Linked DNA regions of Homo sapiens. The protein of the gene in region 4 interacts with the protein of the main gene of each other region in a pairwise test. Each region holds a gene or a part of one and is shown on either strand. Other genes may lie near its edges.

The links.
Region 1: the proteins of NUP93 (region 4) and OPCML interact in binary tests that used the Homo sapiens proteins (3 or more experiments, as listed by UniProt).
Region 2: the proteins of NUP93 (region 4) and PLA2G6 interact in binary tests that used the Homo sapiens proteins (3 or more experiments, as listed by UniProt).
Region 3: the proteins of NUP93 (region 4) and GRSF1 interact in a two-hybrid assay, tested with the Homo sapiens proteins (one study listed by BioGRID).

Annotation. Positions count from the first base shown.
Region 1 is NC_000011.10:133,529,681-133,533,994, reverse strand, and holds the start of OPCML (opioid-binding protein/cell adhesion molecule isoform b precursor), read left to right. Parts: upstream 1-1,493; 5' UTR 1,494-1,670; coding exon 1,671-1,731; intron 1,732-4,314. UniProt on the Homo sapiens protein: Binds opioids in the presence of acidic lipids; probably involved in cell contact.
Region 2 is NC_000022.11:38,126,331-38,129,917, forward strand, and holds part of PLA2G6 (85/88 kDa calcium-independent phospholipase A2), read right to left. Parts: intron 3,233-3,587; coding exon 3,124-3,232; intron 2,101-3,123; coding exon 1,939-2,100; intron 120-1,938; coding exon 41-119; intron 1-40. UniProt on the Homo sapiens protein: Calcium-independent phospholipase involved in phospholipid remodeling with implications in cellular membrane homeostasis, mitochondrial integrity and signal transduction.
Region 3 is NC_000004.12:70,833,360-70,836,946, forward strand, and holds part of GRSF1 (G-rich sequence factor 1), read right to left. Parts: intron 2,956-3,587; coding exon 2,799-2,955; intron 1-2,798. UniProt on the Homo sapiens protein: Regulator of post-transcriptional mitochondrial gene expression, required for assembly of the mitochondrial ribosome and for recruitment of mRNA and lncRNA. Binds RNAs containing the 14 base G-rich element.
Region 4 is NC_000016.10:56,736,629-56,740,128, reverse strand, and holds part of NUP93 (nuclear pore complex protein Nup93), read right to left. Parts: intron 1-3,500. UniProt on the Homo sapiens protein: Plays a role in the nuclear pore complex (NPC) assembly and/or maintenance. May anchor nucleoporins, but not NUP153 and TPR, to the NPC. During renal development, regulates podocyte migration and proliferation through SMAD4 signaling.

The DNA.
Region 1 (4,314 bases), on a different chromosome or scaffold from region 4:
ACTGCTGAAGTTTTCTGACTTGTTCATAAGGAGGGGAGTAATCAATTGTTTTACTTCTTTAAAAGTAAACATGATTTATTTTATAGAAAGAGAGGCGCTCAGTCAGGCCCAAAGAACTTGTTGGCAATTGGCTGCTTTATAAAAACTGTGTGGATTTTGCAGGACAGACCTGGGTTTTTATCTTAACTCATTAGCTGTGTGGCAAGTCACTGAATCGCTGTCAACCTCAGTTGAAAATTCAGGGGTCATAATGCCTACAAGGAAGGACGCTGGTGAGGATTAACTAAAGTGATAGAGGTGAATACCTGCCCATAGTAGGTCACTTGGGAAAACTTTGGGAATTGCAGCAAAGGAGGAAGGGAGAAAGACCTCCTGTGGAGTGTCCCTCACAGACCTCAAGGTGTGGACACGTGGAGCTGGGAAGGAATCCAAGCCACTTGAGGTCTTCGGAGAGCACCTGGGACAGAAATCGTCTGCTGAGTCCCTTCTCTAATACTTGGTGCTATTTTGATCACAGACCCTCCAAGTTCAGGGTATAGTTCAGTGGCAGCACCACTCAGCCAGCAAGGTGTGCTGCTTACAAGCACGTGTTAGGGAGGGCAAGCAGGCCGTTTTAGAGCAGGGGAAAGTTCTGAGGTTTCTTACACCCAGAGATACTGCCATCCTGTGTAAACTGCCGGTGTAAACTGCCATTCCAGAGGAAGGGACAGACTGGACCCTGAAAAGGAGAAGCAGAAAAAAAAAAAACAGAAGGAAGCCACAGGTATCCTTCTGTGGCCTTCTCCTTGTGAAGATTTCCGATGACTTCAGCAAGTTTCCGCCTCCTTGAGATCTAATCTGAATCTGTCCCTGCCTATGCTGTAATCATAGCAATTGTTTGAGCTTCTATAGCATCTTGCCTTGGTAGAGTTTCAGAATGCTCTGATTGTGGGGAACTGGCCAATTCTCCCTGCATCATTGGTTTAAAACCGTAACATGCCCATCTCCTTACTGGGAAAACCAACTGCTTCCAAATGCTGTTAATGGCCGAATGGAGGGGTAGGGTGCAGATTTAAATGTCTGAGCTCTCCCCGTGGGTAGCAGTTCCTGCTCCATCCCTGCCTGGAGACTAGGAAGAAGGAAGAATGATAAGGAACTGGCATGGGCATTAGTCACATTTCTGCCAAGCAACCTTTCTTTCTTGGTGTGCCCTGAGCCCTGCTGGCAGTGCCAGGCCCTCTCCACTGCCCACCAAGGAGCTCGTGTGTGTTCACGTGTCCACGTGAGCCCCACATCAACATACTCACACAGATAGCAACACGCAGGGCTGTGCTCCGGTGAGGGGGTGAGTGAGGGGCCGGCTTCGACTCCCCTTGGAGTCAAGCCTTCCAAGCAGGAAAGTCTCCTTCCGTCGCTCAGGAGAGTGGAGCCAATGCGTGCCTTGGAGGACTGCTCTGAGCCCTGTGCAGATTGGTGCTGATGATTCTTACCAGTTGTGTGCAAGAAAAGAAATCAGAGACGCTGCCTGCCTGCTCCCATCTCTCGCGCGCTCTCTCTCTCTTCTGCTCTCTCCCTCCCTTTGCAAACATTGGATTTAAACCTGCTCAGAATTCAGCACAGAGGAAGGCAGCAGCGGTAGCAGCAGCAGAAGCAGTAGCAAGCCCGGCAGCTGAGAGCACCGCAGCGTCGAGATGTACCATCCTGCCTACTGGGTCGTCTTCTCGGCGACAACTGCCCTGCTCTTCATCCCAGGTACCGTACAGGGGAAGGGTGTTTTCTCTCCCTGGGGTGATTGTACGACGTGAGAGCAGGAGAGGCAGTGGGGAGATGGAGAGGCAAGGAGGAAGGGGTGAGGACAGGGAGTGTGAGATGCATGTGAGTGAAAGAGGTAGGCTTGCTGTGTGCACGCACACACACACTCACTCGCTCACACGCGCGCAGATGCTTTCAGCACGGGATTTGCTCTCTGTTCCGGGGGATCCAGTGAGCTGGGTTCGAGATCTGCACCATGCTGTGAGGCACTGCTGTTTCAGTGAAAGTCACCAACTGGCATTAACCAGCTGTGGTCCTGGGGGTAGGAGAAGAGGGGTTTGAACTCCCAGCCATAAATCCTTCTTGCTGCCTATGTTGGGACCTGCAGGGTGGAAGGGGCACCCTCTTATCTCTCTCAGTCGTGGTGGTCTCTCTCTGTTTCTGAATCAGTCCAGATCTCTGCGCCTCCCTGTCTCTCTCTCTGTTTCTTTTCTCTCTCTCTCTCTCTCTCTCTCTCTCCCTCTCCACCTCTCCCCACTCTCCTCCTCCCTCCCTTCCTTCGGAACTGCTCTCCCCTACCCTCTCCCCCTGGAGCTCCTTCCCTGCCCCATCCCTCCTTCTCAGCTCACTCATCTGCTCCTGCATTTCTTGTTGTAACACAGGCCCTCTACTGCCTGCCGTCCTTTCTTTATCCTTCCACCAAATGGGCAGATTATGCCCTTGAAATTCGGAATCCTCTCAGTATCTCCTTCCTGTTCCTTACGTCAGGAATATGAATTTCCCTTGGCAGAATTTGGGATGTCCCTGCTGAGGGAAGGTTGGAAATTTGGATTTGCCTGATTCTCCCCAGCCCCTTCCCCACCTTGTCTAATGATTTAAATGTGATCCCACCTCTCACAGCAGTTATTTGTTTGGGGAAAACAAATCTGCAGTGACACAGGTAAGATGCTGCAATCCTACCAAAATGAGCTTAGCAGAAGCGTTGCAAAATTGAAGGCATCTTAATAGATTTGATAATTGCACAGGAGTCCTTTGCAAGCAGACAACTGAATGCCTGCAGGCATCTTTCAAACAATGCCGAAGGGGCTAGGTTATGCTTGCCAAGGTTTTAGGCAGCAGCAAAAGTGTCGGTTTTCATACCAAACCGTCGCACAGTCAGGATCTCTTTTTTTCCCCCAAATTGAGATAAATGCATTGTGTTAAACATTAGCTTAAACCTAAATTTTCATACATATATACACAGACAGGAATGCTAAGATTTTAAAACCTTACCTGCCTTTTTATAGGTAAAACATACAGTTTTATGTTTCTATATTCAGTATTACTTGGTAGGGTTTTGTGGGAATATTTTCAGTGTTGTTTTTAATAATATAATTCCCTGAGTAGTCCTAAGATGCCAAAGTGAAATCAGAAAAATGGAAGTTTACTGGGGAGAAAGAAGAGAGGATCAACTAAAACAAGTAATCCAGCCTGTAATGTTTTGTAACACCTTGTGAAGATGGCACTTTTTAAAGCAGGGATGGGCTCTGCATAACCATGTTCCCAGCTGTTTGTTTTAGGCTGACCAAGAAGTTCAGAGTGGGGGTTGCTGTTGTTGTTATTCCAGATTCCAGCAGCATCCTAGGGGGTCCAGCCTGGGGGCTGTGCTCAGCAGGGAAGGCAGAGCCAACGGAACACTCAGTACCTGCCTGAGCCTGGTAGAGGGAGCTAGGTGGGTGCACTGGGTCCGTGGCAGGAGAAGACAAACTTTCCTGCGTAGGCAAGTCCCCAGCTGGATGGCAGCTCCGGGGGGCCTCCTCATACCCGCTTCCCCTCCTCTCACTGTGCTGGAGCAAAGATCAGGACCCCCATCCCAAGGGAATCCTGGCTGTATGGATGCGCCCCTTATGGCAGAAATCATAACATTACACTTTAGAAAGCAAGGCGGGGGGTGAGCCCCAGTCTGCAGAAGCTGCATTGCAGCGCGCCCTGAAGGAGCCAGGAGCCAGGGTGAGACCTCCTTCTAGGGGTCCCGTGGCACTGCACTGGTGGGGAGCAGGCAGAACTTGCTTGCAGGAGAAGTACCCGAAACTAAAGCCGGCTGAGGGAAAGGAGGATGAACCTGCACCCCTGCCTGACCGTCCTGAGCATGGTGGATGAACGACAATGACAAGCTATCCCCCCCACCCCCCTGCCCCCATCTTCTGGGGGAGAGCAGGGTGTGGACATCACTGCAACATGCCCTCTTTCTGAAGAGTCTGTTACCTGCTTTGAGGGCTACTCTTATGCTAATTGTGTCAGGAGCCCGGTAAGAACAAGAACGGGGAGGAGAAAAAGTTAGCCTTAGAAGGTGTCGGTGAAAGAACGCTTCGCATCTTGAGGGGTTCCTGTGGGAAACCTGGCTGGATCCGGAAGTTCTGATGAGCTGCCATGGCTTACTTGCGACTTCTCCTTTCTCTTTTCTTTTACTTCCTGTTATAGCTTTAGACTTTTTTTTCTTTGTTTCAAATGATGATGCTTTTTCTCCCACAGGGATTAATACCAGCTCGTTAGCCACTTACTTTCACTGCGTCTAAAAACCAAAGGCTGATGTAATAATGGAAC
Region 2 (3,587 bases), on a different chromosome or scaffold from region 4:
CACACGTTCCCCGCTCTGCCCCCGATCTCGATCCACTTACGTCCGCTTCTCGTCCCTCATGGAGCCCAGGATGAACGCTGGCTTCCGGGCCCGTGAGATGTGCATGAGATCCTGTAGTTCTGTGAGGCACAGAGCAGGGCATGCTGTGGTCAGGTGGGTCCCCAAGCCCTGCTACCCCAGAGGTCCCTAGATCAAACCTGGGCTGTGCCTCGCCCACGGCCACGCCCTCATCCCCCCACTCCCCCTGTCATCTGTCCCTTCCCCACAGGAAGGACTCTGTCCCAGGAGAAAGCTGAGCCACAGGCCACAGGAGAGAAATGGGCTGGAGTGGAAAGGGGGGCCCACTGCTCTGGGAAGGGCTCCCCACCCTGCCCAGCCAGCTCCCAGGTTCCCCTCAATCTCTTCCTCTTGAAACCCCAAGGCATGAATACCCTTGCGTGTCCTCTTCAGACAAAGTGCTTCTTCTTGCATCGGAGCCGATGCTGCAATAACCACCTGGGGCCTAAGAATTCTTATTCCCTATTGACAGGTGAGGCTCTAAGAGGGTCCATAATTCACCCAAGGTCATTTAGTCAAAAGGCTGAGTCAGGACGTTCCTCGGGGTTTAAGTCCATGGATGAAAGGAGACATCCCTCGTCCTGATCCCAGGTCTGGAAATCCCAGTGGCCTCCGGGATCAGGCCCACCATCCACTCTGTCCATGTCTTCCTTTGTGTCCAAGGCCTGCCTGACGTCCACCCAACTGACTAGCTGCCCCTCCTGACAAGCAGCCCAGTCCCCAGGTGCCTGGTGCAGCAGCCCGCGTGACCCCAACTCTGACAGCCCCCCACCACTGTGCAGAGTCTAGAAGCAGCAAAGCAGAACCGAGGGCTGCGAAGCGGTGTCTCCCCCTCCCCAGGGCACACGGCTCCACAGTGAACAAGGGAAGCAGAAGAGTGGCTGAGAGAGGCCGGGGACAGGGTGCAGGGGAGGGGGCGTGTGGTGTGTGCGCAGCTAAGAAGGACGGATTAGGGAGTGAGAGCTAGAGCTAATGCCGCATGGCTAGGCTCGGTGGCCTCTCCAGGCCCAGGGCGTTACCCATCTGACGCCGCACCCCAGGCCCACCATCCGGCCTGGCTTGGGTGACTGCCTGCAAAATTGAGAGATAAAGATGGGAGGTGGAGGGGGAGTTCCTGGGAGGGGAGAGAGAGGTGGAGCCAGGACTAGAAGCCACAGTCACGGTGCCTCTCCAGAGTTCCAGGCTTGGTCGGGCTACCCTGGCTGAAGGTGCTGCCGCCTCCACAGTGAAGTCTGGCTCACCAAGGACTGGCTCCTGGCTGCCCTCTGTTCAGGGGACCCCGCTCCCAAACAATGGAGGTCCCTGAGTGGGCCAGCCCACAGAAAGTCCAGAGAAGGGTCCTGTCTAGTCTGGGGATGTCTCCCTGGGCACCAAGGAATGCACCGGGGCAGATGCTGGCTGCCTGGCCACATTCAACGTCTGAAAGTCACCACGGGGCCAGGAAGGGGGCACACAGGTCTCAGGCCCAACCGAGATTCAAACAGTGTGATAGAGGTGAAGCCAGAGGGACAGGTGAAGCCAGAGGGCCCGGGCCCCCAGTCCCCCGACAGCACTCCTCACTGCCCACCCTGAACGCCCTGGGGACAGGAGGGCAGTAACAGCAGCCACCTCATGGGTGCCACTGGAAATGCCCAGGCCTGAGACTGTGTGCAGGACACATCCTCTCAGGGGCAACGGAGCATGGGACATCAGCCAGGGACACCCTAGGCCTCTGGGATCTGTGGGTTGCTGGCTGCCTAGAGGCTGACAACTCCGGCCCCATCCTCCCCGGCTTCCTTTAGTGACTTCCGTCCTAGGGATCCTGTTGCTTTGGTGGGGCCTGCTGTGATCCAGGGGCCTGGGAACCAGCTGGAGAAGAGGGAGTCGGGAGGCGAGGCCTACCTAGGTTGTTTAGGCTGATCGGTGGGGGCTGAGCTCTTTCCAGGGAGAAGGGATGATGTGGCGCTGCAGAGCCCTGCTCCGCGGGGACCCCGTGGATGGGTGGGAAGCAGTATTCGGCCCCCACGGTTCTCAGCAGAGTCAAGATCGCCTTCCTGGTGACAACTTGTCATGGTTTGGGGAAGGGGAGATGGCACAGGATCAGAAATGATGTCAACATGCAAAGGAGAGGCCCCTCCTTTCCACACTCCGTCCCCTGTCCCAGCTCCCAGGCCCTGGGCACGTGGGCTGCTCCAGAGGCCTCAGCCCACCCTGACAGGGAGTGCTGCCCCCAGGCTGGTACATCCCAAGCAGCTTCCTAAGGCCAGGGAAGGAGGATATGGGAGGAGGAGGTCAGTGTCACCCTGCCCGATGCCTGTGGGAACCCCTTCTTTCCTTCTACTCCAGCCAAGAAAGCAGGAATCCCATGGCCACATTCAGTGATTCTCAAAAATGCTAAGTGATAGTTCAGGGTTCCAAAGGGACTAATGAGCCAGCCAGGGGGCACCTACTCCATTTGATGGATGGGATTGCTGAAAAGGAGGTCATAGATGCGGTGCATGCAGACACACACGTGTGCACTGGCACACACACACTGCTGCCATCAGGTACCTGCCCACAGTGACCCCCACAGCTGCTGAAACCCTCCAGAGCGGGCTCCAGGCCTCTGGTGAGGAGGATCTGCTCTGTCCAGCTCTGAAGCTAAGGCTCACTGTGCGAGCGTGCAGCACATGGCCATGCACTCTGCCCACACAGGCATGCCCAGAGCTCGTGCAGTGTAGTGCATGCACCCTTGGTCATTCTAGCCAGTGGTTCCATCAGTGAATTCCCCAACGGTGGGGAAAGAAGGCTGCTGCTGGCTCTCCTGTCCCCACCCCTGCTGGGAATCTTAGCTCCCTGAGGTGGGGGGCGCTGCACGGGAGAGGATGCTGGTATAGCAAGCCCCGTGGTGGGCCTGCATCTACTGCTCAGGGCCCTTGTGCTTGGGTAAGGAAGCCCCCTCTCTGAGTACGAGGTGCTCCTGGCAGCTCTGAGCAGGGCGGGTCAGCACAGGATGCTGGCACCTGATGCCTGGGACTTCCCTCCTCCTCGGTCCCTGTATCCACCCAACCCTCACCCCACTCCAGCCCCAGAGTGCAGAGCACATACGTCTGCCGATTTTGGAGGCTAGGAATGTAGGAGTCTCCCCAAAGTCATTCGGGGTGTCCACTTCTGCTCCGAACACGATGAGGGCCTTGATCATCTCCACGTTGTCTTTCTGTTGGAGATGGAGAGAGGATAAGACGTGCAACTGCCGGGGAAGTGAAGAACAAAGGGGCCCCTGGCTGCCAGCCCCAACCTGTCAACTCACCCAGCGGGCCTCTCCTCAGCACGGGGAGACACTGGAACCCTCCTCACCCCCACCCAAGTCAATCTGGTAGTCCAAAGTCTGCCATTTGATGGCTGGGGACCTGACAAACAGGCTTAAAAGCACCCACAGGGGAGGGTGTAAGAACCCAGGCAGAAACTAGAAGTGACTCGCCCCTGCTCTGCCAGCTCCGCCTCCAAAGATGCAGTGCATCTGTGACCCCGACCCAGGAGCCATGGGGACACAGTAGGTCAGCTGCTGATGG
Region 3 (3,587 bases), on a different chromosome or scaffold from region 4:
AACAAAGCAGGAAACAAGTGTCATATTCCTTACACAAATCCCCATCACTGAAGTCATCCAAACACCAATAAGGATTTAGTCTCTAAAACCTTCCAAGTAGAAAAGATAAGCAAACCTTAGCACAGAAGCTTATGATCTCCTTCCTGATCATTAAATAGCAAATCAGGATAGGCCCAACACAAAATTCATTATTTCTATTGCAATGTTTCTACAATCACTTAAGGAAATACAATATAGTTAAATTTATACATAAGTGTCTTCCTTTAAAATCATCTCCATAGGTCTCTAAAATATTTCCTGTATGAGTAATTTTATTACCATAGTTTAACTTTTTGTTTTTGTAGAGAGGCGGTCTCATTTTGTTGCACAGGCTGGTCTTGAACTCTTGGGCTTAAGTAATCCTCCCACCTTAGTCTCCCAAAGTGCTGGGATTACAGGCATCAGCCACCACACCCAGCCTTTTTCCCCTTTTCATACTGCATACTTTTTATAATGGGAGTAGTCCAAGATGTAAGTGGCCAAGTGGCTTTAAAAAAAAGTTTGACCAGGCTCACTCTGGGCATACTGCCTAGGATTTACTCCTGCTCCACAAGGAGCAGCTAAAAAAATTAATGAAATAGCCAGGCATGGTGGTTCATGCCTGTAATCCCAGCCCTTTGGGAGGCCAAGGTGGTGGATCACCTGAGGTCAGGAGTTTGAGACCAACCTGGCCAACACGGCAAAACCCTGTCTCTACTAAAAATACAAAAATTAGCCGGGCATGGTGATAGGTGCCTGCTGTCCCACCAACTCAGGAGGCTGAGGCAGGAGAATCCCTTGAACCCGGGAGGTGGAGGTTGCAATGAGCCGAGATTGCGCTACTGCACTCCAGCCTGGGTGACAGAGCAAGACTCCATCTCAAAAAAATTAATAAAAATAAATCATAGTCAGATACAGAAACTAAAAAAAAAAATCCCACAGATATGTAAACCCTCCAAACATGTTATTAAGGGAACTTTATTCCTTGATACTAAGTGACCTTCTATTGTAAATGTCTGTATTACATAAAGAGTCACCCTTAATTCCATATTTCCACTGACAGGCTTGACTTTTTGATATGTATATATTAATACCACAGAGAAAAATAATTTCAAACCATGTAATTTTGTTTTTCAACTTTTATTTAGTACATGTATAGGACTGCTACATAGGTAAACCATGTGTTATGGGAGTTCGGTATACAGATAATTTAGTTACCCAGGTAGCAAGCACAGTACCCAATAGGTTTTATTTTTCTTTTTGAGACAGAGTCTCTCTCTGTCACCACGGCTGGAGTACAGTGGTGTGAACTCAGCTCACTGCAACCTCCGCCTCCCAGATTCAAGCGATTCTCCTGCCTCAGCCTCCCAGGTAGCTGGGACTACGGGAGCGTGCCACCACGCCCGGCTAATTTTTTTTGTATTTTTAGGAGAGATGGGGTTTCAACATGTTAGCCAGGATGGTCTCGATCTCCTGACCTCGTGATCCGCCCGCCTCGGCCTCCCAAAGTGCTGGGATTACAGGCGTGAGCCACCGCACTTGGACCCGATAGGTATTTTTTAATCTTCTCCCCAACCCTCAAGTTGGCCCTGGTGTCTTCTTGTTCCCCTCTTTGTGTCCATGTGTTCTCATTGTTTAGCTCCCACTTGTAAGTGAAAACATACAGTATTAAGTTTAATGTTCCATGTTAGTTTGCTTAGGATAATGGTCTCCAGCACCACCCACATTGCTGCAAAGCACATAATCTCACTCTTTGTTATGGCTACGTAGTATTCCATCATACCAGCCGGGCACGGTGGCTCACGCCTGTAATCCCAGCACTGTGGGAAGCCGAGGCAGGCAGATCACAAGGTCAGGAGATTGAGATCATCCTGGCTAACACGGTGAAACCCCAGCTCTACTAAAAATACAAAAAATTAACTGGGTGTGGTGGCAGTCGCTACTAGGGAGGCTGAGGCAGGAGAATGGTGTGAACCCGGGAGGCGGAGCTTGCAGTGAGCTGAGATCATGCCACTGCACTCCAGCCTGGCGACAGAGCGAGACTCCGTCTCAAAAAAAAAAAAACCTACATAGTATGATGGATTTTTTTTTTTTTTTGAGACAGAGTCTCACTCTGTCGCCCAGGCTGGAATGCAGTGGCACCATCTCGGCTCACTGCAAGCTCCACCTCCCGGATTCACACCATTCTCCTGCCTCAGCCTCCCAAGTAGCTGGGACTACAAGCCTGGGTAATTTTTGTATTTTTAGTAGAGACGGGGTTTCACTATGTTAGCCAGGATGGTCTCGATCTCCTGAGCTTGTGATCCGCCCGCCTCGGCCTCCCAAAGTGCTGGGATTACAGGCGTGAGCCACTGCGCCTGGCCCATACTATGCAGTCTTAACGTTAAAATACTTTTGTTGCATTCAAAGTCTTTATACATATGTAAATTGAGACAGTCTCACAGTGTTGCCCAGTGTGGTATGGAACTACTGGCCTCAAGCCATCCTTCCACCTTGGCCTCCCAAACTGCTGATTACAGGCCTGAGCCACTGCCCCTGGCCCAAAGTCTTTCAATTCGTTACATACCGCAAACAGCACACATGGTATCATTTGGTATATGCAACCAACCAGAATGAGACAGTTCCCAACCATCAAAAAGGAAGGTGACAGCGTAGTCTGACATGGATTTGTAGCACTACCTTTTACTCAGACAAAATTACATACTTAAAACATACATACCTGCTTGTGAGAAACAATATAAGGAAAAAAAATAAATAAATAAAACATACATAAAATATACCTGAAAAAAAGTTAAGCACATCTTCCATAGTGCATGACCAGGGCAGTCCTTGAGCTCGAATGAGAAAGACATCATCCACTTCCTCTTCTAACTTGGACGGGGCCAATTCATACTCAGGGGGTGGTGGAAGGTCTTCCAGGTAAGTAGTTTTGGACTCCTTCCAAAGGAAATGAAGAATTGTAAAAAGAGTTGCATTTACAGGTAAAAAATGTAAAAAAATTCTTAGAAAATGTTTATTCTACAAACTAACATTCTAGATGTTATTTCAGAAGCAAAAAGTAAACTTCACCAATGTAACCCATCCTGTTTTGGCTTAAATTGTACATCCAAAAGCCATAAGCAGGTATATCCTAAAGGTTTGGCAGGACACAAATTTCATTCAGGGTTTGTTTTAAAATTCATCAACCCCAAATTATAGCTAACAATAGTGTAGTTAAGGCAACACAAGAAAGGTCCTGACAATTTGACAAATATTTGATTGCCCCTACACACAGTGTTTGCCGCCCTCATCTGAAATAGCTATCTAGAATACGATAAGCATACAAGATGAGATACTGAGTGCTATAATTAAGATACAAAATACTACAGGAATTCAAATCAGAGCACTAACAGATGAATCAGGATGTGACATGAGATGGGCCTTGAAGGAAGGATAGAATTTTTATGAGGATATAAAAGATAGGGTATTCCAGTTTGAAGGCGAGAGAAAGAAGCAGTACGACCAAATGCCCATTTGAATAACAGCAATTAATTCCAACTGTTTAAATTAGGAGCCAAAGAAGGTGACCT
Region 4 (3,500 bases):
GTCAGCCCCCCGCCTGGCCAGCCGCCCCGTCCGGGAGGGAGGTGGGGGGGTGAGCCCTCCGCCCGGCCAGCCGCCCCGTCTGGGAGGTGAGGGGCGCCTCTGCCCCGCCGCCCCTACTGGGAAGTGAGGAGCCCCTCTGCCCGGCCAGCCGCCCCGTCCGGGAGGGAGGTGGGGGGGGTCGGCCCCCCGCCCGGCCAGCCGCCCCGTCCGGGAGGGAGGTGGGGGGGTCAGCCCCCCGCCTGGCCAGCCGCCCCGTCCGGGAGGGAGGTCGGGGGGTGAGCCCTCCGCCCGGCCAGCCGCCCCGTCTGGGAGGTGAGGGGCGCCTCTGCCCGGCCGCCCCTACTGGGAAGTGAGGAGCCCCTCTGCCCGGCCAGCCGCCCCGTCCGGGAGGGAGGTGGGGGGGTCGGCCCCCCGCCCGGCCAGCCGCCCCGTCCGGGAGGGAGGTGGGGGGGTCAGCCCTCCGCCCGGCCAGCCGCCCCGTCCGGGAGGGAGGTGGGGATGTCGGCCCCCCGCCCGGCCAGCCGCCCCATCCGGGAGGGAGGTGGGGGGGTCAGCCCCCCGCCCGGCCAGCCGCCCCGTCCGGGAGGGAGGTGGGGGGGGGTCAGCCCCCCCGCCCGGCCAGCCGCCCCGTCCGGGAGGTGAGGGGTGCCTCTGCCCGGCCGCCCCTACTGGGAAGTGAGGAGCCCCTCTGCCCGGCCAGCCGCCCCGTCCGGGAGGGAGGTTGGGGGGTCAGCCCCCCGCCCGGCCAGCCGCCCCGTCCGGGAGGGAGGTGGGGGGGGTCAGCCCCCCTGCCCGGCCAGCCGCCCCGTCCGGGAGGTGAGGGGCGCCTCTGCCCGGCCGCCCCTACTGGGAAGTGAGGAGCCCCTCTGCCCGGCCACCACCCCGTCTGGGAGGTGTGCCCAACAGCTCATTGAGAACGGGCCAGGATGACAATGGCGGCTTTGTGGAATAGAAAGGCGGGAAAGGTGGGGAAAAGATTGAGAAATCGGATGGTTGCCGTGTCTGTGTAGAAAGAAGTAGACATGGGAGACTTTTCATTTTGTTCTGCACTAAGAAAAATTCCTCTGCCTTGGGATCCTGTTGATCTGTGACCTTACCCCCAACCCTGTGCTCTCTGAAACATGTGCTGTGTTGTCCACTCAGGATTAAATGGATTAAGGGCGGTGCAAAAAAAAAAAAAAAAGAAATTTAGCATTTAATTTTAAGCAGAAACTCTGCCCTCAAACCTTATTAATCAGACTATGACAGGAGTAAAACACAAGAATGGTGTTCAACATTCTTGTGAATGATTCTTTCTTTTCTCATCCAAGATTGATGAGAAAAACCTCCACCCAAGGTATCAAAAGTTTAATACTGATTCTGTTCTCCTCTCTTTTGAATACATAAACTAGCTAGATGACAATATCATTCCACTTTTTACTATTATCTGTCAGCTGTCAATTACAACAACAACCCCAAAAAAATTAAATCTTGACAGACATCATTGTTTCAGATGCCTCTGGAAGAGAGAGGAGAGGGAAAAAAAAATTGTTGGAAAGTTCTTTACAGCCCTGTGAGACTAAGTAAAAGAGACCTTATCATTATTCAAAAGGTAGAGTTCTGGAGAAAACAAAGACCTAAAATAAATTAACCTAGACAGAAGAAAAAGACTTGGGTGATTTAGTAGCAGTACTGCCCTCAGTGACTCAATGTTTGCAATAAGGAATGGGTAGTATCAGCTTTCCTGATACATAAAATATCACTTGTATTATTTCCTCTTCAATGAGCAAAGAGAAGTAATAACCTGGCATCACAAAGAAAAATAAATTATCCACATAGTAACTTTCTGATAAACTCTTGGCTGTCCAGCAGAAGGCCCAGCTGGGAAGAAAGTGCTGTGGACTACAGCTTGGCTCCATCCCACGCCAGCCCTCTGACCCTGGGGCTGGATCGTCTCTGGATGAGGGGGTTGCTCAGGTGATCTCTAAGGGCCTGCTCACCTTAAAGAATTTACAAATGTGAGATGTTTTAATTCGGTCTTTAAACTTACTTGATGCTTCCTGGGAAACAGCCCCATTTTAGTGGTGATGGAAATTATCTCTACAGAGAACCTTAGGAATGATACTAGTTCTGTCTTACAACTAGCATAAACAGGGGCAGATCACCAAGTCGGCCCCAAAGGGCCTGTGGCTTTGGCTCTGGCTCTGGCTCTTCTCTCTAAACCAATGCTACTCAACTTTGCCCCACAGGGGACATTCAGCAATAGCTAGAGACATTTTTGGTTGTCACAACTTGGGAGGCAGAAGGTGTGCGGATTCTAACAAAAGTCTGGGTCCCTACCATTATAATTTTAAAACCATTGCATTTACAGAATTATCCCACTTGGGCTTTTTATGGCAGTATATTCATACCTTGGTATACCACACACAGCAATGGAAAAGAAACTACAGACTACACAGAACATGGATGAATTTCACAGACATCACAATGAGCTGAAGAAGCCAGATACAAAAAGAAAAAAAAAAAAGCACCGTATGACTCCATTTATATGGATCTTAAAAACAGAAAAAATGAATCTATGGGACTAAAGATCAGAATACTGGTTATCCTTGGGAGTGTAGGGGGAGTGCTGATTGGGAGAAAGCACAGCAGAGCTTTTCGGGTACTAAGGACTGAACTGTATTCTCTCAGAATTCCTGTGTTGAAGCCCTACCCCACAATGTGATGCTATTTGGAGATGGGGTCTTTGGGAAGTAATTAGACTCAGATGAGGTGACGTGGGTGGGGTCTTCAGGATGGGATAAGTGCCCTTAGACACACCAGAAAGCTTGCTTTCCTCCACCTACCTCTCCCCACACATACACATCAAAGAAAGGTCTTGACTACACACTGAGCAGCGAGGAAGAGGGCCCTCACCAGAACCCAACTATGCTGGCATCCTGATCTCGGACTTCCAGCCTCCAAAACTGTGAGGAAATAAATTTCTGTTTAAGCCAGAACAACAGATATTTTGATATTTTATTATGGTGATCTGAGCTGACCAAAGTACCAGAAATGCTTTATATTTCAATATGGACAGTGGTCACATAAGTGAATAAATGTGTAAAAATTCCCTAAGCTGTATACTTAAGGTTGACTCACAGTTTTTTAGAAGGAATAGCAAGAAACAAAGCACTGACTTAGCAAGAAACAACCTAGCATTACCAAGGTGAGAGTTGGGAGACTTTTCTACTTTTCATTTGATTCCCTTGTCAGGGCAAATTCTTTTCCATGAGTATATGTGATCTTACATAATTTTTAATAACTTGTTAATTTTAATATTGCTCTAAATTCCCTACTTCACAGTGTGTGTCTCACCACTGCCCTTGAAGACTCAATGGCAATGACTGTCAAATCCACACCTGCCCCCGTGCACTCAAACTCCAACCGTGAGTTTCCAGGCACCACTGGTGCATCTCCTCTCAAGCACATAACTGTCACACCCACCATGTCTCCAAATGCAGTTATCCACCCCCAACTCC